2 separate regions of the Homo sapiens genome follow, and region 2 is linked to region 1. Evidence: fine-mapped expression QTL. Tissue or cell type: lung. Region 1 holds a variant in brackets; the other region holds the start of a gene. All regions are shown on one strand. Distances are from middle to middle.

What was found. PIP is the estimated chance that this variant, and not a neighbour inherited with it, causes the effect.
Region 2: it holds the start of NRIP3, and the variant in region 1 is fine-mapped to the expression of NRIP3 in lung (TOPMed, PIP above 0.99).

The regions. Positions count from the first base shown.
Region 1 is chr11:9,042,926-9,053,380 of GRCh38, forward strand. It overlaps SCUBE2 (signal peptide, CUB domain and EGF like domain containing 2), which reads right to left. Exons shown (of 23, transcript NM_001367977.2): 12 at 10,174-10,290; 13 at 9,821-9,907; 14 at 7,681-7,785; 15 at 5,018-5,173; 16 at 4,431-4,637. All of the region lies in intron 1 of NRIP3-DT (NRIP3 divergent transcript), which reads left to right. Among named protein-coding and RNA genes, the nearest start is that of MIR5691, 42 kb to the right of the region's middle. RefSeq lists an enhancer at 4,113-4,614. The variant A/T (reference allele first, on the strand shown) is at 5,285.
Region 2 is chr11:8,999,460-9,009,509 of GRCh38, forward strand. NRIP3 (nuclear receptor interacting protein 3) reads right to left here and starts at 4,542. Exons shown (of 7, transcript NM_020645.3): 1 at 4,303-4,542. The coding sequence starts at 4,476. NRIP3-DT (NRIP3 divergent transcript) reads left to right here and starts at 4,629. Exons shown (of 3, transcript NR_183663.1): 1 at 4,629-5,084. RefSeq lists an enhancer at 3,719-4,638.

The DNA.
Region 1 (10,455 bases):
AAAGCCCCCAGATTGGTCTTTCTGCCTCTAATTCTGCTCCCTCCAGTAAAGTCAGAGAGATCTTTCTAGAATACACATATGACCTGGACACTTCCCGAGTAAATCCTCCAATGGCAGCATGTCACCTAGAGATAAAGTTGAGGCTCCTTAGCAACATATCCAAGGTTGCTGCAGAGGAACAGCAGTAAGCTGTTACAAAAGGAATTAAATGTTCCTAGTCTCTCAAGAACCCAGGCACTAAAATACTTCCCAGTTTGCCAGTTGTCTGGATTGTTTCTTCTAAAAATCTCAGCAAGTTTTCAAAACAACCAAATACAGTATATATAATACATACATACATACATACATATATACACACACATGCATACACACACATATATATTATCCAGTGTATTTCTTAAATAATTTATCTTTTAGCTGGTATTATGAAAGTACAATAGCTAGACATCCATGTCATATAGTTAATTTTCTTTAGACATGAAGAACTTTATGAAGTACTACAGAGCTTAAGAAATTTGTTCCTTGGACCCTATAATCATTTTTTTTTTTTGCCATCTTGTTAAAATTGATCACAGATGGTACAAAGGTCACTTGGAGAGCAGGCTGTCCCCAAAGTCCCCAAATGCCAAATTAATGAAACTTTACTATATAAAATAATGATAAGAAAGAAAATATACAATTGGTCAGAAGTGATTATTTTCTCTGGTGTAAATTGGGACTTTAAAATTTATTTTTTAATGCTATACAAAGGACAAACAGTTCAATGCAAAAATAGGCAAAGAATATAGATGTTTTCAGAAGAAGGAATCCAAATGACCACAGGCATAAGACAGCATGCTTAGTCTTACTAATAAAGAAAACCAAGTTAAAATGACTATTTTTTTTTTTTTTTGCTTACCAGATTTGCAAAAATGAAAAGGATCAATGATAAATAATCCATGTTAGCAAAGATGTAGGATGCTTCCAACGTTGGAAGCGACATGCATAGGCATGATCTTTTGGGAAAGTAATTTGGCAGTATCTATTAAAGTTTTAAATATGCAAGTTCTTTGAGTCGGCCATTGTACTTTTGCAAGTCTATCCTTCAGAAATATTGGCCATGTGTACAAAGAATGATATTCATTGAGCACTATTTGCCATATAAAAATTAGCAATAACTTCTATGTTCACCAGTAGGGGTAGGGCTAATCAATACTGGTGTCTTCAAACAAATACAGCCTGGGAAGCTGTAAAAGAAATGAGGTTGCTCCGCTATCATGTTAGAGAGATGTTCTTGATCTAACTACAGTTAAAAACAACACATAGCACTATTCAAATTGTATTGATATTTGTTTTTTATTTTGTTAAGATAGGCTCTTGGTCTGCCACCCAGGCTGCAGTGCAGTGACACAATCATAGCTCACTGCAGCCTCGAACTCCTGGACTCAGATGATCCTCCCGCCTTAGACTCCCGAGTAGCTGGGACTACAGGTGCTACCAACCAACATAGTGAGACAGAGTGTCACTATGTTGCCCAAACTAGTATTGAACTCCTGGCCTGAAGTGATCCTCCCACCTCGGCCTCCCAAAGTGCTGGGATTACAGATGTGAGCCACTGCACCCAGCCTATTTTTTTAAAAAGATATATCTATTCATACGTAAACCTACAGTCTACTTTCAACACAGTAGCCAAAGTTATCTTTTGAAAACATGTCAGTTACTCCTATGCTCAAAGCCCTCCACTGGCTTCCTTTCTCATCAGATTCGGGATCAGGGTCCTCCCTGGTTTCGAGTTCCCTCTGCTACTGCTCTGCCCTTGCTCTCCCTCCCTGCCTCTCTCAGCTCTCATCCTTCTGGCCTTCCTTCCAGTACCTTGGGGTTTTCCTATTTGTTGTTCTCTTTGCCTGAAACTCTCTTCCCCCAGATATCTCCATAGCTTGCTTCTTGCTGTCCTTTGCGTCTCTGCCCAAATGACACTTTGTAATGAGGCCTTCCCTGACCACAGTCTGCACTTTGGGGGAGTACGCTCCTCATCCCTCACCCCTCACCTTGGCCTGGCACTTTCCATTCCACTTCCCTGCAGCCCTGCTCTCCATATCCCTGTCGCCCTCTGCTACATGATAGTAGTATCTTTCCTCGTTTATTGGTTGGTTGTCTACCTTCTTCCTCTAAAATTGTAAACTCTGTGAGGGCTGAGATGTTTGCGTGTTTCTTTATTGCTGGATTCCTGATATCTAGAATGGTACCTGGCACACAATTGGTGCTCAATAAATATTTATTGAATGACTATATAAAATTTCCTTTTTATATGTGCATAAAAACAGTTGTGGAAAAATCACACAGCAAACTATAACAGTGATTACTGCTGGGGAGTTGGATTAGGGAGCTGTGGAGAGAACTTTCATCTTTACTGTATACATTTCTGTGCCATTTGAAACAGGCACTACTTTCATAATTGAAAACTAAATTTAAAATATTTAAAAAGATAAACATAATGGTTCCATCTCTCCCCCCAGGAGAGATGGAAGTGACTCCATTTTTCTTTTTTTGAGCTCTTTTCTGCAAATACCGAAAATCATTTCTAAAAGGAACTATCCTAAGCTTGTCTCCACTGTACCATCCAGAGCTCAGAAAACATCAGCAAGCCTGGTCTTTATGAAGTCCTAACACCATCAAATAGACCAGGACTAGAAGACAGACAGACAGACACACACACACACACACACACACACACACACACACACACACACAGCCTTGTCTATGCCACATGCTGCCTTCTGGATAAAAAGCCTTTCTAATTAACACACCTGACACTTCTTTACACCCACTTCCTCCCTCAGCAGCAAGAGGGAATGTCACTGGTAACTGCTTGAGCCGTTTTCTCTGCATGGTAAAATCTTCAACATTGCTGTCAGACCTGGACCTGATTTGATGCTGTGAGGGCTACAGAATTCATCCAGTGTTTGGGAGCTCCTGAGACAAGACACATTGGCTCCCCTAGAAACAAATCAAACCTAATTTAGCATGACAAGCATCTCAGGGACACATTCACACACCACCACAGCTACACAAACCCTCTACTGAGTGTCTTTCTTTCTTTTTTTTTTTTTTTTTTTTTTTGAGACGGAGTCTTGCTCTGTCGCCCAGGCTGGAGTGCAGTGGCACGATCTCGGCTCACTGCAGCCTCCAACTCCCTGGTTCAAGGGATTCTCCTGCCTCAGCCTCCCGAATAGCTGGGAGTATAGGCACGCGCCACCACGCCCAGCTAATTTTTTGTATTTTTTTAGTAGAGGCGGGGTTTCACCATGCTGGCCAGGATGGTCTCGATCTCCTGACCTCGTGATCTGCCCGCCTTGGCCTCCCAAAGTGCTGGGATTATAGGTGTGAGCCATCATGCCTGGCCCCGAGTGTCTTTCGTAGGCTGTTGTGGTCATGAAGCCCCTGTTAAGTAACTCCTGCTCCTTATCCTTGGGCCTTTACTCCCCAGGAACATACCCATGGTAGTATTAGTGATACCCTCACTGGGAGCCAGTCCATGGGGCCCTTGACATTAGGTTTTCTTGACTTTTTAACTGGCCACAAAGACTCCCTGGCCCGTCCGTGAGGCCTAACCCCAACAGGATAGCAGACGGGGGAGGGGTGCAGTGTAACCCTGAGAGGCCAGGAGGGCCCTGACAGTTTCTGCAACTCATCCTGGAAAGTAGGGCAGCCACAGCCAACTCTCCCCACTATTTTAGTACGGAAACTGGAACTCTTAGAATTTTAAATGAGAACAGATCAACCAGCTGGGCTGTTTTTACTTTTTTCCACTTTGTTTCTTTTTAAGAGAATCAGCTGGAATGAAAATCAAGACTATCTGGAAACCAGCCTCTTGTAGACAGTTACACTTGATTTTGCACTTGATTTTCACTAAGTTTTGGCAAAGCAACAAATTTGAGCTGTGGGCCTAAGGCTGACAATTCTCTGGAACAAGTGCCCCTGGATTCAGCTTTGCTTACTTAGAAATACAAATGGGATTCTTACTCCTTAGCTAAGCTTGGGCCTCATGATTCTACTGATACTTAGGAAAAGGACATCAGTTTATCCTGGAGAAATCTAATTACTGAAATTCACCCTGCTTGGGACCAGAGCACAGGCTTTGGAATCAGAACATCAGCCACTTCTTTCCTGTTCCTCAAGTCAACCAACATTTTAGTGCCCACCACAAGCCAGATACTATGCCAGGTGCTGAGGACAGGGAGATGAATGAGGTCAGTCTCACTCCGGGGAGCTCTGGGCCTAGCAGGGACGACAGACACAAACGCAACAGTTACTGAAACAGAAGCACTGCCCGGAGTGTTCTCTAAAGTGAGCCCTGAGAAGGGAGGATGGGCCAGACTTGCCTTCGGTTACCCTGAGTGTTTATGGAGCCCAAGGCTGTTCTGTTAGCAAGAATGTCCCAGGCCACTCACCACATTGGTTTTCTGCATGACCCTGGCCCACTCCACAGGACTCTGCCTGGCGTTCAGATGTTCTGGGAGGCTTTTTAGCCACGTCGAGGTTCATGCCTGAGAGCTGGAGGTGAAACTGCTCCCTGTGGACGGCCTTTCTGAGCGTGCGGATGGCTTTACGGAGCCGCTTCTCGGTTCGCTTTACGATGCAGCTCAGGTCACAAGAAGCTACAGAAACAAGAGGGACAGCAGTGCGGGAGGAGATCAGGCTGCAGCGTGTGACAATGGCCAGATCAACTGCAGGCCCTACCAACACCCCGAGCTCCCTGTGGACCGAATGGGGAGAAACCTGGAGGGGGCACCTAGCAGGCTGGGCAGCATTTGATTCAAACAGAAATTTGTGGATCAGAATGGTAGCTTTGGGTTTTTATGAAGCAGAGAAAACCATCAGGTTCCAAACCAATTCAGTTTAGTTTCGGGGTGAAAAAAAACAGGAGATACTTCAGTGTTTGCATTACTTTTCCCCCAAGAATAATAAAAAGTGAAAGGCAAAGAAATAAGGAGCAAGCCGTGAGAAGCCTGGCAATGCAGACTGTTTTCAAACCAACCTGTCACCTCCTTTTGGTTAGTTTCAAGCTCAAACTCAACAGTGATAAACATTTCCTTAGGGGTGCTTGGTCGGCCAGGGGCTCCTGGGACTTGCTTGCCAGAGCTGCATGTAAGGTTTACGTAGCGGAAGCTCTCTTTTACTGAGCTGTGCTTCTCTGTATGAAGAAACAAAATTATCGGAAGCCAAATCCTGGCAAAGCACTCAGCTGAACATTTGCTAGAGCTCAGTAAACATTTCATTAAAACAACTCTCAAGGGACTAAGTG[A/T]TTATCTCCAGATGCCAAGACACTGCAAGCCCTTAACTTGGAGCACAACGACATTTTAATGTTGAAGAGCTAGCATTGCCTCCTATATAACTTTACAATTTAGCTCTTGAAAATTCTTTTCATGAATAAATGGGAGATGTTTCCGACTGACTAGCCACATATGTGGAAGACAAGAACCAGGGATTGTCTTGCATTCCTTACTGACGGTTTGCTAACGTGTGCTTACACTCTCACAGTTGGTTTGCATAAAGCTGGATGTGCCGAGCAGGGGCTGAGGCTTCAAATAAGGAATGAGCACAAGAGTGGAAAGGAAACCAACTACTGCTTTCAGGCAAACTGACCTTGGAGTCATTCTAACCTGAAAGGAAAGCTGGAACACCCGTCAGCAGTGATGTCTCATTTTTAAATAACCAGGAGCAATAAATGGTACAAAGCATCAACAGAACCTAACAATATCATGAAGGCATCTAGGATGAGAGTGGAAGTGTTGCATGACAGGGCTTTGCACATCCTTCTTCCTGACTTGGCTGTCTCCCCTCTCACCATGGTTTCCAGTGAATCTGTTAACCCTCACCAAAGAGCAGGTCCACATATCATCCACTCCATGAATTTGTCTCTATTTCAAAATCTTTATTGAAATGAAGTATTGCCTGTATCAGATTCTTCTTTAACATTACAAGGACATTCAAGCCATAGGTCAACAGGGGCCACAGGAAGGAGGCAGATTTATTTCTTCTCTACATTTTTCCCCTAAAGATTTATCTTACTTTTTCAAAAGGGTAACTTCAGATCTTAAACTGAACAGATTCTCATTTTAAATCTTTTTCCCTTTCGATGTTTCCATATATATTTTTTTAACTTTTCATTTTGAAATAAGTAGATTTATAGAAAAGTTGCTAAGATAGTATAGAGTTCCCACATAACCTTCACTCAGTCTCCCCTAACGTTAACATCATACATTTATCAAAACTAAGACATTAACACTAGTACAATCCCATTAAGTAAACTATAGGCCAAGTCTATTTTTATCATTGTATTTATTTCATTTTTTTGAGACAGGGTCTCGCTCTGTCGCCCAGGCTGGAGTGCAGTGGTGTCAACACAGCTCACTGCAGCCTCAACCTCCTGGGCTCAAGTGATCCGCCCGCCTTGGCCTCCTGAGTAGCTGGGACTACAGGCACAAACCACTAGGCCCGGCTAATTTTTTTATAGTTTTTGTAGAGATGGGGTTTTGTCATGTTACCCAGGCCGCTCCTGAACTCCTGAACTCAAGCAATCTGCCTGCCTTGGCCTCCCAAAGTGCTGAGATTACAGGTATGAGGCACCACAACTGGTTCAAATCTATTTTTAAGCAATGGCCCCTCCCTTCACCCCTGAGGTTTAAAAGTATAAATGCTCACTATGGTTAATTTGGCAAATGCAGAAAAAAAATTAAAATTACCCATGCCTCCCACCCAGATGTAACCACTACTAATGATAGGGTGAGTTTTCTTTTTGTTTCTTCTACCACAGTTTTTCTTACACAATTTGGATTGTATTAGATATACAAAATGTTTCTCTCCTGCTTTACATCTCAGCATTATAACAAGACCATTTTCCTGTGTCATTAAACATTCTTTGAAAACATAGAATTAATAGCTGCATAATATTCCATCAAATGGAGGTACCAAGTTTCTTAAAAATACTTACCTAAAATAGGCAGTCAAAAGTGACTAGAGTGAGCTTTAGGTTTATTTGTCTGTGTGATTTGAGAGTAGATTGGGAAAAGAAGCCTCCCTAATACATGAATCCTGATCCTTTTTATTTTTAATTTCCAAAAGAATTCTATAAAATAATACTGGAAATGTGTGCTGGGAAAGAAAAAGGAATGTTAGATTCTGCTCTTCTCAATAAGGCCAGTTCTACTTGGATGGTATTTGCTTTGCTGAAGCCAATGGGGTCACCGCTTCCAAAAACTAGACCCAGCAGGAAGGCTGGATATTAGATCTTTGTTCATCAAAGTTATCCTTTCTGAGCCAAACCTTTTTTCATTTCTTTGGCTTATATTTCAAGCAAAATCTGAGATCTAGAAAATTTAACCCAATATGATCACAAATTGCTAATTCATCTGAAGCCCTTATTGACTTCTGTGAACTCGTGGGTTTCCCCAGAGCCTCACCAACTATACCATGCAAAGGAAGCCCCGAAGTGTGACCCCAGAACTATACAAGCATGCTAGGTTATGCTCTTCTTCCTCTTGGGATGAGTCCCTGGAAGTTGGGGATGGTTCAGTTCCATCTGCAGTGTGCTTGGATCGGCTGGACAGCCCCTGGCCCCCATGGACCTCCAGCTCGGCTGGCTGCAGGCCCCTTCCCACATGCAGGCAAGCTCCCTACACCAACCACCTGATTCCATACCTGGTAGTGCTGGTCGCAGACCCTCGGGAAACAGCTCAGCATTTTTCAAACTACACTTGCCTTCATTTAGCTTAAAGGTTACACTTGTCCTGATGGTGGTGACATCTTCAGAAAGAAACAAGTGAGAGATGTTACCTTCAGAGGCAAAGGAATGGAGACACCAGATGGGAAGCAGCAAGCTGTCCATTGGTGGCTTCCACCACACACAGCACACCCTGAGACCCTCTCCTACCCTGAGGCTAAGAGTGGCTTGGATCATGGAGTGCCCATTGCCCTGGACTGGGGCCACCAGGAGCCTCCTAAAATTGCAGTTACCCCCTCATGTGAGAGGCAAATCCAGTGTTCAAATAAAACAGAGGCCAGCCTGGCGAACATGGTGAAACCCCATCTCTACTAAAAATACAAAAATTAGCCGGGCATGGTGGCACATGCCTGTAATCCCAGCTACTCGGGAGGCTGAGGCAGGAGAATTGCTTGAACCCAGGAGGCAGAGGTTGCAGTGAGCTGAGATTGCACCACTGCACTCTAGCCTAGGCAACAGAGTGAATGAGACTCCATTTCAAAAAAAACAAAAAATTATCTATCTATCTATCTATCTATCTATCTATCTATCTATCTATCTACCTACCTACCTATCTATCTATCTATCTATCTACCTATCTATCTATCTAAAACTGAGGGTCAAAAATAGCCTCCACGGTGAAATAGAACATGAAGTCATTTTTGTGCCTTCCTGAGAAAAAAAGGCCAGAATCCCCCAGTTCAAATCTGGATAAGCCCGTTTGGCGAAACGGTGAAGGGCAGATTCTCCTAAACAAGCCCGTCGTGGGAGGACAGGGCTGAGGGAGCTGTTGTTCCAGACACAGATGGCACTCACTAAACATGGCTAGGCTCTGAGGTCTGAGAGGGAGTGAGGGTCCCACTGTGAGAGCCTGATGTGCAAAATTCTGTTCTCCTCCCAGGGTCAGTCAGTCTTAACCATCCGGTAGGATCTGGAGTCAATGCCCTACAGCTCTTTTAAGTTGTGGTGAGAACTTGAGCAAGTTACTTAATCTCCCTAAGCTTCAGTGTCCTCATCTGTAAAACAGGCATAATTATAGTACCTATATTACCAGGCTGTTGTAAGGATAAAATGAGATAATGCATTTAAAAAAAGGAAAATGTTTAGCTCCTTGCCTGGTACGTAGTAATAACTGCATAGCCATTAGCTATTTGCTTGCCCCACCTTGGGGTGGCCCAAATCACCAAGGAACTGTCACTGAGGGATTTGGCGAAACAGACCATGATGTATGCCCTGGCTGAGTCCAAACGTGCATTGAAAGGGGCAGTGAAGGATAGTGCTTGAGACTCTGGACCCAGACTGCCTGGGTTCAAATCCCAGCTCCCCTATTTCTTATCTAAACCACTTTGAGTAAGTTATTTCACCTCTCTGAGCCTCAGTTTCTTCATCTGGTTAATGAGAATAATAGTAAAATTTCCTCAGAGGGTTGTAGTATGGCTTAAGTCAGTTAATTCGTGTACTATGGTAGCTGGCATATTTGAATTGCTCAGTCAACACATACAAGCTGTACTGTCTTGCTTTGAGTCTCTAGCTTTGCTCATATATGTAATATGAACATCAGGATGTAATATGAACCTCATTCAGGTGTTCCAATGACATAATGACAAAGGCGTCTATATCCGGGAGGACACAGCCTCCTAAAAACCTTGGATTTCATTCTTCATCTTTTGACAAACAGGAAAGGGTTTGGGCCCCTTTCTCGGCACAGAATCCCTGCTGCCCCTGCTTTGCCTATTTCTATCCACACCATGTGCTCCAGGCACATTCCCTGGGCCTTTGAGGTGCTCTGGAGTACAGCCTGCTGGTCCTGGGGTTCTGTGGGCCTCTGCCCAGGGTGATGACCCACCAGGGCTGACCACAGCCTCCTGACACACAGTGGCCACACAGTAAGTATCTGTTACATGGGAGAGTCACATTCCGGGCACCAGGACTGCAGGCAACAACACCCTGGAACATGCTCACAGCATCAAGGAAATTAACAGAAAAAAAACAAAGCCAATGTCCAAGAACAGCACCCCGTGAATGAAGCCCCTTGAACACAGTGAGCCCCCAGAGAGAACACGCAGATTTGGTAATTACCCCCAAAAGCAGAGTCATTTGATTTTTGTTGTTTGTTCCTGAGAGGAGAGGAAGAGCCACAGGTGACAGAGTAGGCCCCTTGCAGTCCTGACAGACAGAATGTCAATTGTCAAATGCATAAGCAAGGTCACAGGCTATCCTGGTAGCAGCTAAACTGTCCCCCCACCCCACTCCACATGGGCCACTAGAAAAATGCCCAGCATATGGGGTCTCGAAGCATGGACCTCTCAAAGCACGGTGGTCGGGGCATCTGGCGGAGGACCTGGAAGCCCTTTGAGGGAATCTAACACCTGGAGGCCAGAGAGGCCTGGCCCCAGTGTGAGGACCTGCCCCGGGAACTGGGCCCCACTCACCTGAAGAGAGGTGAATGCCAGAGTGACATCTGAGGAAGCACCCGTCTCCTCCACCACTCTTACCGCAGTGCAGGGACACACGGGGTGACACACTTGTGGGCAGGAGCCCCTTCACTTCTAGACAGGACAAAACAGACACTTACAGAAAGAGAAGGACATTTCCAAGTGTGACAAGGATGGTTGAGTCCCATGCACCAAAGGCCCCAAGAAAAGAAGGTAGAGCTCATGCCCAGCACAGAACATAGATGCTAGGCCTTATTCCCACCAAGGGAAAGGAGCCCC
Region 2 (10,050 bases), 44 kb before region 1:
AATAAGTCGTATGTATCATATCACCCCTCTGCTCAAAATATTCCACTCGTTTCCAATCTCAGGTTAAAACCCAAATGCATAGGTATGCGCTGAAAAGAGTGGAAAATAAAAAAAATAATAATTTTAAAAAACCACCCAAATGCCTGCACAATGGCCTCCTACTACATCTCTGATGTTATCTTCTATCACCCTCCCCCTTGCTCATTTTGATCTAGCTACACTGGTCCTCTTACAGTTCTTCAGTTATATCAAGCACAGTGACACCTCAGTCCTTTGCACTTGCTGTTCCTTCTGCCTAGAACACTCTTCCCTGAGAAACTTTGCTCCTTAATTCCCTTCAGTATCTCCTCAAATGTAATCTTATCAGATAGGCCTTGCCGGACAACCCTGTACAAAATAGCCAGACTCCACCCCACCCCAGTCACTGCCTTCCCTATTCCCCTTACCCTGATTTATTTTCTCCATAGAAAATATTTATTATTATTACCTTATATACATTTACTTAATTTTACTTTCTGCCTCCTTCCTCCCACAAGAATGAAAGTTCCGTCAAGGCAGGAACTCAGTTTTGGTTCACTATTATATCTCCAAAGCTTAAATTATTGCATGACATGTGTAGTAGGTACTCAATAAATATTTGTATATTAAATTAACTGATCTGTCCTTCCCTGCCCCCAACCTATAAACCTGTTTATAATGAGAAACTTTTCTGTCTTCCTATTTGTGTCTTAGCCCCTAGACTGTGTCCTGAACACAGCAAGTATTCAAATAATGTTTGCTATTACGAGGATGCAATCACGACTCTGCAAATCTTCAGTTTGTGCCAGATCTTGGTGTTATACTGGTATTTCACGCTTCTCTTCTAAGCCTCTGAAATTCTCCAGCCCATGATTTGTGGTGATATGGATAGCTAATCTATAGGGCACACCACACAGACCTGCTCTAATAGACAGAGATTCTGTTCAGGTATTTTATGGTAAGTTTGCTTTACTGTGTTCAACCATCTTTCCCCCAGCATCATTCCTAATTCTAGTCAGTTTTGAAAAAGCATTTAGCTATGATCAGAAGCAATCATATGTAGGAAAGAAAAACTCTATTGCCAGACAAGTAAGAATATGGCCTAATGCCTACAGGTAAGTATAATATCATTTAGGAAAGACAGCATATTACCACATAACATGACTGTTTTTAAAAATTAAAAAGTCCTTAGCACAATGAGAAAAACTTTTATGAACCTGGTAGCTAAAACAAGATAAATTACAATAGGCAAATTTCCAAGAACGGAGATGTTTTTCTCCAGCTTCACTGAGTTAAAAAAAAAAATCAGGGCTGGGTGTGGTAGCTCATGTTTGTAATCCCAGCACTTTGGGAGGCTAAAGTGGGCAGATCGCTTGAGACCAGGAGTTCAAGACCAGCCTGGGCAATATGGCAAAATCCCATCTCTACAAAAAATACAAAAGTTAGATTGGTGTTGTGGTGTGCACCTGTAATCCTAGCTACTCAGGAGGTTGAGGTGGGAGGATCTCTTGAGCCTGCGAGGTCGAGGCTGCAGTAAGATGTGACTGCAGCTGCATTCCAGCCTGGGCAATAGAGTGAGAACCCGTCTCTTAAAAAAAAAATCAAATATAATATTACTCACTCATATCTCTGGTTTTAGTTCTTAATCTAATACAGAATGAACAATACAAGATAAAAGGATAAAAGCAAAAGGGGCAGACAAAAATATAATTTCCACAGAAGACTTTGTATCAGCCAACTCCAGATACACAGGAATAGGCAAAGGCACTTTCCTGGGGCCAAGAGAACATGACCCCCTTTGATTTCCTATGGTTGCCTTCTGCCAGTCCTAAAAGAGCTGGCAGGCTGGTATCAAGCAGTGAACATTACAGAAACAGCATAGTAAGAGGTAGATAATTCAGAAATCCCAGCGGTATATTCAAATATAGGTTGCTGGTATGAGGAAAAACAACCTACAATCTTCACAAACCCAAAAGTCAATAACAACTAATTTCTCCTCTCTCTTCCTTATCTCCCTCTGATGCTATCCTCTCCCTTTTCTTGGACTCCTTCTATCGAGATTATACTATAAACTACTCCAAGTAAGAACTATTCAATTAATTTTAACATCCTCCAAATTTCCCTTGCAGTGAGAGAAAATTGAGTCAACACTGGTCTATCCCACATGTATTTATAAAGTAAAAGAATAATAATGTACTTCTAAGGTCACTTCTAAGATTGTACTAAGGCTGCAACAACAGTTCCAAGAGAGTTTAAGCATGCTGCCTCACCCCAGCGCTTGCGGCTCTCCTAGCCCTACCTCGGTCTGCCTTGGTTTCTGTAACCTGGCTGTTCTGTGCAATCACTTGTACATTATAGGTGTGAAAACAGTGAGAGAGGGAAATCAACTCCATGACGGTGGGGCACAGAAAGCGTGAACCATGATTCAGAGCCTTACAGTCAACTGTCATGTGTATGTGTCATACTCAAGGCAATATCCTGCTTCTTGAGGCTCCTTCCTCTTTGCAGCCTGCTGCCTGTGCTGTATGCTATCAGCCCTTTGTGACTCAACTGAGACAGACTAGAGTCAGAAAAGCGGATGGAATTCTTACACAGCATGAAGTAGTATAAGAAATCCTAGGCAGAAGGAAGTTCAGGTAGCTCTCAGGGCTAGGAAACTCCTCGACAACGAGGGACAACCAAATCCAGCATTTAAAAACTCTGTATTTTAATTCTTCTCTTAATATAATACTTCCTTCTTTATTGATTGCTGAGCATTCTAGGAACTAGGATAGGATTATTTGGCCTGAAGGAAAGAATACTTCTCGAACCTGATTTGTTAAATGAATCGAGATTGCTTTAAAGTGAAAGAAGGGAAAAGAGAGTTATCTCTTTTGCAGGAGCACATTTCAATCACTTATCACTCTGGGTTAGCATAAATCAGATAAACTATCCTGTGGGTTGTGCAAAAAGCAAAACAAAACAAAAAAACACAACTTGTAAAAAAAACAGAGCAAGATAACTGAAGTAGACAAACTCTGCACAGAAGTAACTAATGGCAGGGAGGAGAAAAATTTTTGTATATTATATTATACTGTGTATAATATAATGTACCTGTGTATCATTAGAGCTGTTAAATTAAAAAAAAAAAAAAAAAAAAAAGGAAATGGATGCAGAAGCTCTGCCCTCCTGGGGCCAGAAATGGCAATTTCAGTGAACTAGGGCCGACAACCACATCCAAAATTAAATATTTCAAAAGCTTAAAATAAAAAATACTAGAAAAATTATGCAGAGCACCTATTTCATTTGTTAAAAGACATTTAATTAGTGTTTCACATATTACCACCCAAATGAATAAAGCGATTGTGAAATTCAAGAAAACAATCAAACTACAAGAAAACTCCAGATAAAACTACAAAGTTAAACATAAACTTGGCCCAGGACCACTACAGTGGCTGAGGGATGACAAATACAGTTCTTTATATTGGTAACCCTTAGCCATCCATCCCATTCTATAGAAAGAGGACAGTACCATCTTTGACCCCAGGCCCCCTGTCCTGAGGTGCTTCTACTTAATGCCAGGAACAACTGTGCTAGAAAAAAAGACTGCACCCACCCCAGCTCCAGATGCACACATTAGCTGGTCGGTGAGATGCAGCAGCCTGGCTTCCTCCCTCTACCCACTCCTTGGGGGCGGGGCTGGAAGAGGAGAATGATGAAGAGATGTTGGGGGTTCAGGAAACCTTCACATTTGGCCCCTTTTCTCTCTCCCCACTCAGGATGGAAGGTCAAAGTTAGGACCAAAACTAGAGAAGTGGGTTTTGCATAGGGGGACAATGGATTCAACAGAAGTCCTCTGGATCTGGCAACTGTCAAAAAACCCTCTTTCCACTTCTTTCCCCCTCACGGAAAGCCATTAGGAATCACCTCTGTCTGGGTCATAGGAACAGCCACACAGCATAGGAGGCACAAGCCCCGTGAACAAAATTCGGTATTAAGAATAAGGAAAAAGAAAGAAGACCCGAGGGCAAGAGGGCAGGGCAGGACCTCTTCTTTCTACTGGAGAAGAGACATCCAGGGAGGAGGCACAGCCGAGGGGAGCGCAAGCTAGAAAAGCTACGACGGAATCCCCACCGAAACCGCAGCAGGGGTACTGGAAGGGGAGGAATCCGCGACGCAGCGACCGCGAGCCAAGGGCAGCGGCGGGCCGGGCCGTGACTCAGTGAAAGCCGCAACGGCCGGGCCTCGGAAAACGGCGGGCGCGAAGCCGCCGGGGCCGGGGCGAGAACGGCGGCGGGGGCTCACCATGTCCTTGGACGAGCCCAGCTTCTTGAGGCCGTCCAGGGGCAGCAGGTCGGCGGAGTCCTTGTGGATGAACTGCACCGCCTGCTTCATCCGGCGCTGCTGTCGCAGTGACGCCGCCTCCCGCATGTCGGTCTCCTTGCGGCCGCCCTCAGTGAGGAGCCCTGAGTAAAACATCGCTGAGGCGCCGGCGGCCCGGTAGCCCACAGCCCCCCGGCAGCCTCAGCCTCGAGCTCCTCCAGCGCCGCAAGGGCCCCGAGCCGCGCCTTTTATAGCCGAGCGTGACGTCGCGGGGAGCAGCCAGTGCGCGCGCGGGGGGCGGGGCCGGCACAGAGTCCACGCCCCGCGCGGCTCCCTCGCGTCCCGCGTCCCGCGTCCCGCGTCCCCTGCTCACCCGGTGGCAAAGCCGGCGAGGAGGCGGCGGCGCTGGTGGGGACTGACCCGGCAGTCCGAGAATCCACCGCGGCCTTTTCACCCAACCGCCCCCTCCTGCGTGGGGGCCCCGCATCCCCTGGACTGGCGTGGGCTCTGGGGCCCGATGCCCTGGCAGCCCCGGCCATCTCTGCCGCTGGCCGCGGGTACCTGCTCACCTGTCCACGCCGTGGCCGACCCGGGGATCACCGACAGCCGGGCCATGCCTCGAGTCCCGCCGCCCGCGCCGCTGCTCGGCTTCTCAGAAACGCACCTCCACGCCGCCAGCCGGGGCTCCAGGGTCCACCGCCCGGGCCCGGAGGACTGGCGACTCCCTCCGAGGTTGGGAGCGCTCCGGATTTCTCCAACTTCAGGTCGGTCCCCACCCACCGGGCCACGTGACTGGGGAGGGGGCAGCCGGTGCAGGCGTGTGGAGGAGGCTTTCGGGACCTCCTCCCCCGGGCACCCTCTGCCTGCAGCCCGGCACCCGGCCCGCGTTTCCGAGCCGGGGGAGCAGGTGCAGTCGGAAGCCCGCGGGTGGGCGTGGGGCGGGGGAGTGGCGAGGGTCCCCCGCCTCCGCGGGAGCGCACGCGGCTGCGAGCCCTACACCTGCTCTCCGACCAAAGAAGCACCTGTTTTTCTCAATAAGTGCTAGGGCTTACCATCTAAAGGATCGTTCACCATCCCTCCAGCGTCCTTAGTAGGAGCGATTGGAACCCGTTTTTCTTCCTGAATAATCCATACTTTTAAGCCATTCTAATCGGGCCTTCAGGCATCCTGGATTCTGGTCTCGACATTGTGATTTGACACAAATCACGTTTTCACTCTGGAAACCACAACTACTCCCTCCACCCCATCACGCAGGAGCAGACCTGGATAAGAAATATGTGCACTCTGCAAAGAACCAATGATAAAAGTAACAATATCGACGCTTACTGAGCCTTTACTATGTGCCAGGTACTAGACTAGACACTTAAAATGCAGTATCTCATTGGATCCTGGCAACAGCTTGTAAGATAGTATTCTCATCACCCCCATTTTACAGGCAAATACCTGATACCTTCTGTCTGGCCTCCTGAATGCTCCTTGGTTCCATTCCAATACGTTGTTCACTGTGCTGCCAGAGTAATCTTCTCAAACGATAAGTGTGATCATCTCACTTCCCTGCTAAGAGCACCTCAAAAGGCTTCCTATTGCTCTTAGGAGAAACCCACATTCTTGCATGGTCTGCCTAGACCCTGCATATTCACTCTGTACTTCAGCCTCATGGGCCTTCTTCCAGTTCCTTCCAGTCACCTGTTGCCAAATGGCCTGCCTTTGACTGTCCTGTTCCCTCTGTGTGCAGTGCCCCCTCCTACCCTCTTCAGGAAACTCCTATGCTTCTTCCAGACCTCAGCTCCATTATCATTTCTTTAGGAAAGCCTTCTCTGACCTTCCAGAGAGAGTGAAGTCTCTCTAATTATATACTATCTATCTCTTGGGCATTTGACACTTTCTGTGGGGGTAGGGGTAGGGGGGTACTGGTTGTTGGATTAATATTTGTCTCCTCCACTGATTGGAACCTCCAGGAAGGTGACTGAACCCATTTTTTGCTTAGCATTGATGCCCTAATATGCAGAGGGTTCTCAAATACTAGTGAAAGGATGGCAAAAAGTTAAGGTCGTACCAAAGAAATCAAGTGGTAAAGCTGGCATTTACTCCCAGAACCTGTGCTGGACTACCTAGACCTGGAGAGACTGGGTTTGGCCTCATGAAGCTGCTTCTTTTACTCTGTTCTGCCTTCAACACTTGCCCCAGTTTCAAAGACTGTTTGTGGGAAAACAAATACAGAAGGCTGCTCACTTGGCTTCAAGGAAGCCCCAGGGCTGGATTCCTCCCTGTGTGCCCATCCCCTACTTTCCCCTACACACGGAGGACAGAGTCTCTAGGAGACAGGTGGGATTGCTGTTCACCTTCCAGTCCCCTGGCACACTTCCAGCAGTGAACAACAGTGGCTGCCCTGGCCCCTTCTGTCCCATCACCTGGATCCCTGCCTGATCACTCCTCCAGGTGCAGATCACCCAGGGAACAGTGAAAGTCAGCTTTGCCTTGTCCGTCTAGGAGAGGTGCCTCTGAGTTTGGCAAAGCATCAGGGCAGGTCCAACAGTGAGGGCCCCTAGGGCTTGGGCTGGGACAGTGACTTTCCTCAGGGAGGAAGCCAGGCAGGTAGACACTCTCGGGGGGAGTTGGAATCCCCACTCTCCAGGCTGCTCAGCTCAGACCTGCAGCCTTTTTTGCTGAGGATGTCCTGACAGAAGAAAGGGGCTCTTTTCAGAGCTAGATCCCCCTGGGAACACCAGGAAGCTGAATCTCTCTAGTTGAACTGGAATTTGCCCATATCAAGTGTTGCTGAAAAATAAATGGTGCCCGACTGGAACTGGGAATCTTTTTGTGAATTCAGAGCCCTTTGGTGTAGTGGGATTTGTGTTCTGCAGTTGGGTCTGTGGCTGCAATACCTGTTGGTCCCCTCACCTGTCTGAGACCTTCCTTGGACAGACTGATACCATCACTGCCCTCAAGGTTCAGTGTGGTGAGGCCAGCTCCTTCCTCCCCCCACACATTATGAGTATTCGCAGACTACAGACTGCCTGCTTAATTTAAGGAGAGTTATCTCTGGGTGGTTTATCCTGTTTGCCCAAATGACTTTGAGTAAATCACTTCCTACCTCTGAGCCTCAGTTTCCATATCTGTAAAATGGATGTAGTGAGACTGCATATACAATTGTGCTTTGTAAACTCTCTAGGGCTGTACCAACAGAAAAGATTATTATTAATTCTCCATATAGCCAATCAACGTCCCCTGCCTCATTGACCCATCTTGGAGGAAGTAACATACAATATGGTTGTTAAAAACACAGGTTTTGGAGTCTAATACACTAGATTTGAATCCCTGCTCTGCTGCTTACTAGCTATGTGACTAGTTAGTTACTGCACCATTGTGAGCTTTCAGTTCTTCATCTAGAAAATTGTGCCAATATCTCTACTTCTCAGGGCTGCTGTGAGAAATAAAACGATAGACAGTGTAATACATTGGTCATGTAGCATAGGCTCAGCAGAAGGTAGCAACCATCATTACCTGGAACAACTTCAGGAAAAACTGTAGGTTGCAGAACCCTCGAATTGGGGCTGGCCTATCCTTTCTCCAGGCTTCCCTACAGAGCTTCAGACATGAAGCCAGACTTGAGTATCTTACCCTATCCCTAGAGCAGAGGCCTGCTGAGGCAGGGGCTGGCCAGCTCTCTTCCTCTCCTCAGTGTCTCCAGATTCTGGACTTTCCATGTGCAATGGCTCTATCCTAAAGTTCTCTGCATCCTCCCTTGGCTGTTATAGAAGACCTGTACTTGAAAATCATACTAGAAAATCCAGTACTGTTTCAGTGTTAGAATGCTATTCACGTTATTCTTCTTATAAGTGACAGATACCCAGTTGAAAATTTCTTATGTGAAAATGCAAATTTTTGGTCCCCTTAATTTAAAAGTGCAGGGCTTCAGGCATGGCTGGATCCAAAGACTCAAATGACATTATCACTGTGTTTCAGCTCTGCTTTCCTCTGAGCTGATGCCCCTGTAGGCAGACCCTTCCTGTCTGATGGCTATTTGTGACTCTAGGCTTACAACCTATTCTCCTAGCAACCCTCTTTTGGGTCTTCAGCTAACAGAGAGGCCTTTAAGAATGAGAAACAGGATGAGTGCTGAGGCTTGGAGGCCTAAAAAGTAGAGGAGAAGAGCAGAGGATAAAGGGGAGACTGCCAAGAAATTTTCCTCCCCATTCCCTCCCTACCCATGCATATTGCCCTTGGCCATACCCTGAAGTCAGAATGGCCACTCCTAGGACCCTCATCATGCACCACCCCATCCTTATAGCTGTAGGATCCCTTTCCTCCTCAGATGTCCTCACCACTACCCCAACCCCCTTTGGCAGGAAGATTCTTCGAACAGCTATCCAGATGTGTGCCAGGATCTCTGGCTACATGGTACCCCTGACTTGGCACCCAGCTCTAAAAACTGTGTCTGCTTTGGCAGTTAAAGCAAAGATAAGAGATATTTCTGTCCTCTTCCTTCAGAGTGATTGCCAACATCACCATGACCTCAAGAAACAGGGCTGATGGCAGCCCTGCTGGTGTTTTCCAAAGTTGCCTGGGTCTTTTGGATCCATTACAGTCACCAGTGATTTGGTTTCATTTCCCGGGATGAGAACAGGCTTTGACCTCAACTCAGACAGCAAAAGAGGAGAAATAATGGAAAGAAAACAAACACCAGTATCTGAAGGACGTGTGTCTGGTGGAAGTGGGGAAGTGAGGAGTCTAGGCTTAGCTTTGAATCTGGTTCCACCCCTTGCTTGCTATGGGACCTTGGCCAAGTTACTGAAGCTCTCTGAGCCTCAGTTTATCCATCTTGCAGGGTTCTGTCTCATTTGAGTGAAATAATATATAAAGGCACAAAGTGGGCTCTCAATAAATATGTCCTGTTCCTCTTTCCTTCCCCTCTCCAACATAGGTAGAGAACCCAGAAAAAGAGTGGCCCTTCTGAGCCTAGTGGGAAACTCTGCAGTATAGAAACAAGAACTCTGAAGATGGCAAGTCTCTCAGAATACAGCAAAGCATAGGCCTAACCCACCTGCTCCTTATCTCTTTATGTCAGCCCCAGCCAAAGGGGACAATGCCTGCAGCGTGGCTCACACTGATGGGTAACTTCTGTCTACCTCAGGAGCACTGAGGGCTCTACCTCCTTCCCCCCAGTTAACTAAGCATGTTGCTCAGATGTGATGGTGTGCATGCTGGGCAAGCCACAGGGGCTGGGGGCCAGTGACAGCAGAGAGGTGAAGTGCTCTGTGGAACATGTGTAGACTCCCAGGTGTGCAAACATGTGCATGCGCTCACACTCATAGTGTTCCGTCTGACCAGTTTTCGCACAGATCTACACTGCCCAAAGAGAAAAGTCATTCAGGATTATTTAAAAACTTTTAATTTGTAAAAAAAATTTGAAACTTACAAAAAGTTGCAAACATAAGAATAGTAGAAAAAACACCTGTATATCCTTTTCACAGATTACCTGTTACTAACATTTTACTCCATGTGTTTTTCAGGTGCTTATTGGCCATTTGTTTATCTTCTTTGGAAACATGTCTATTCAGATCCTTTGCCGATTTTTAACTGAGTTCTTTGTCTTCTTATTATTGAATTGTGAGAGTTCTTTTTTTTTAATACTTTAAGTTCTGGGGTACATGTACAGAACATGCAGGTTTGTTACATAGGTATACACTTGCCATAGTGGTTTGCTGCACCCATCAACCCATCATCTAC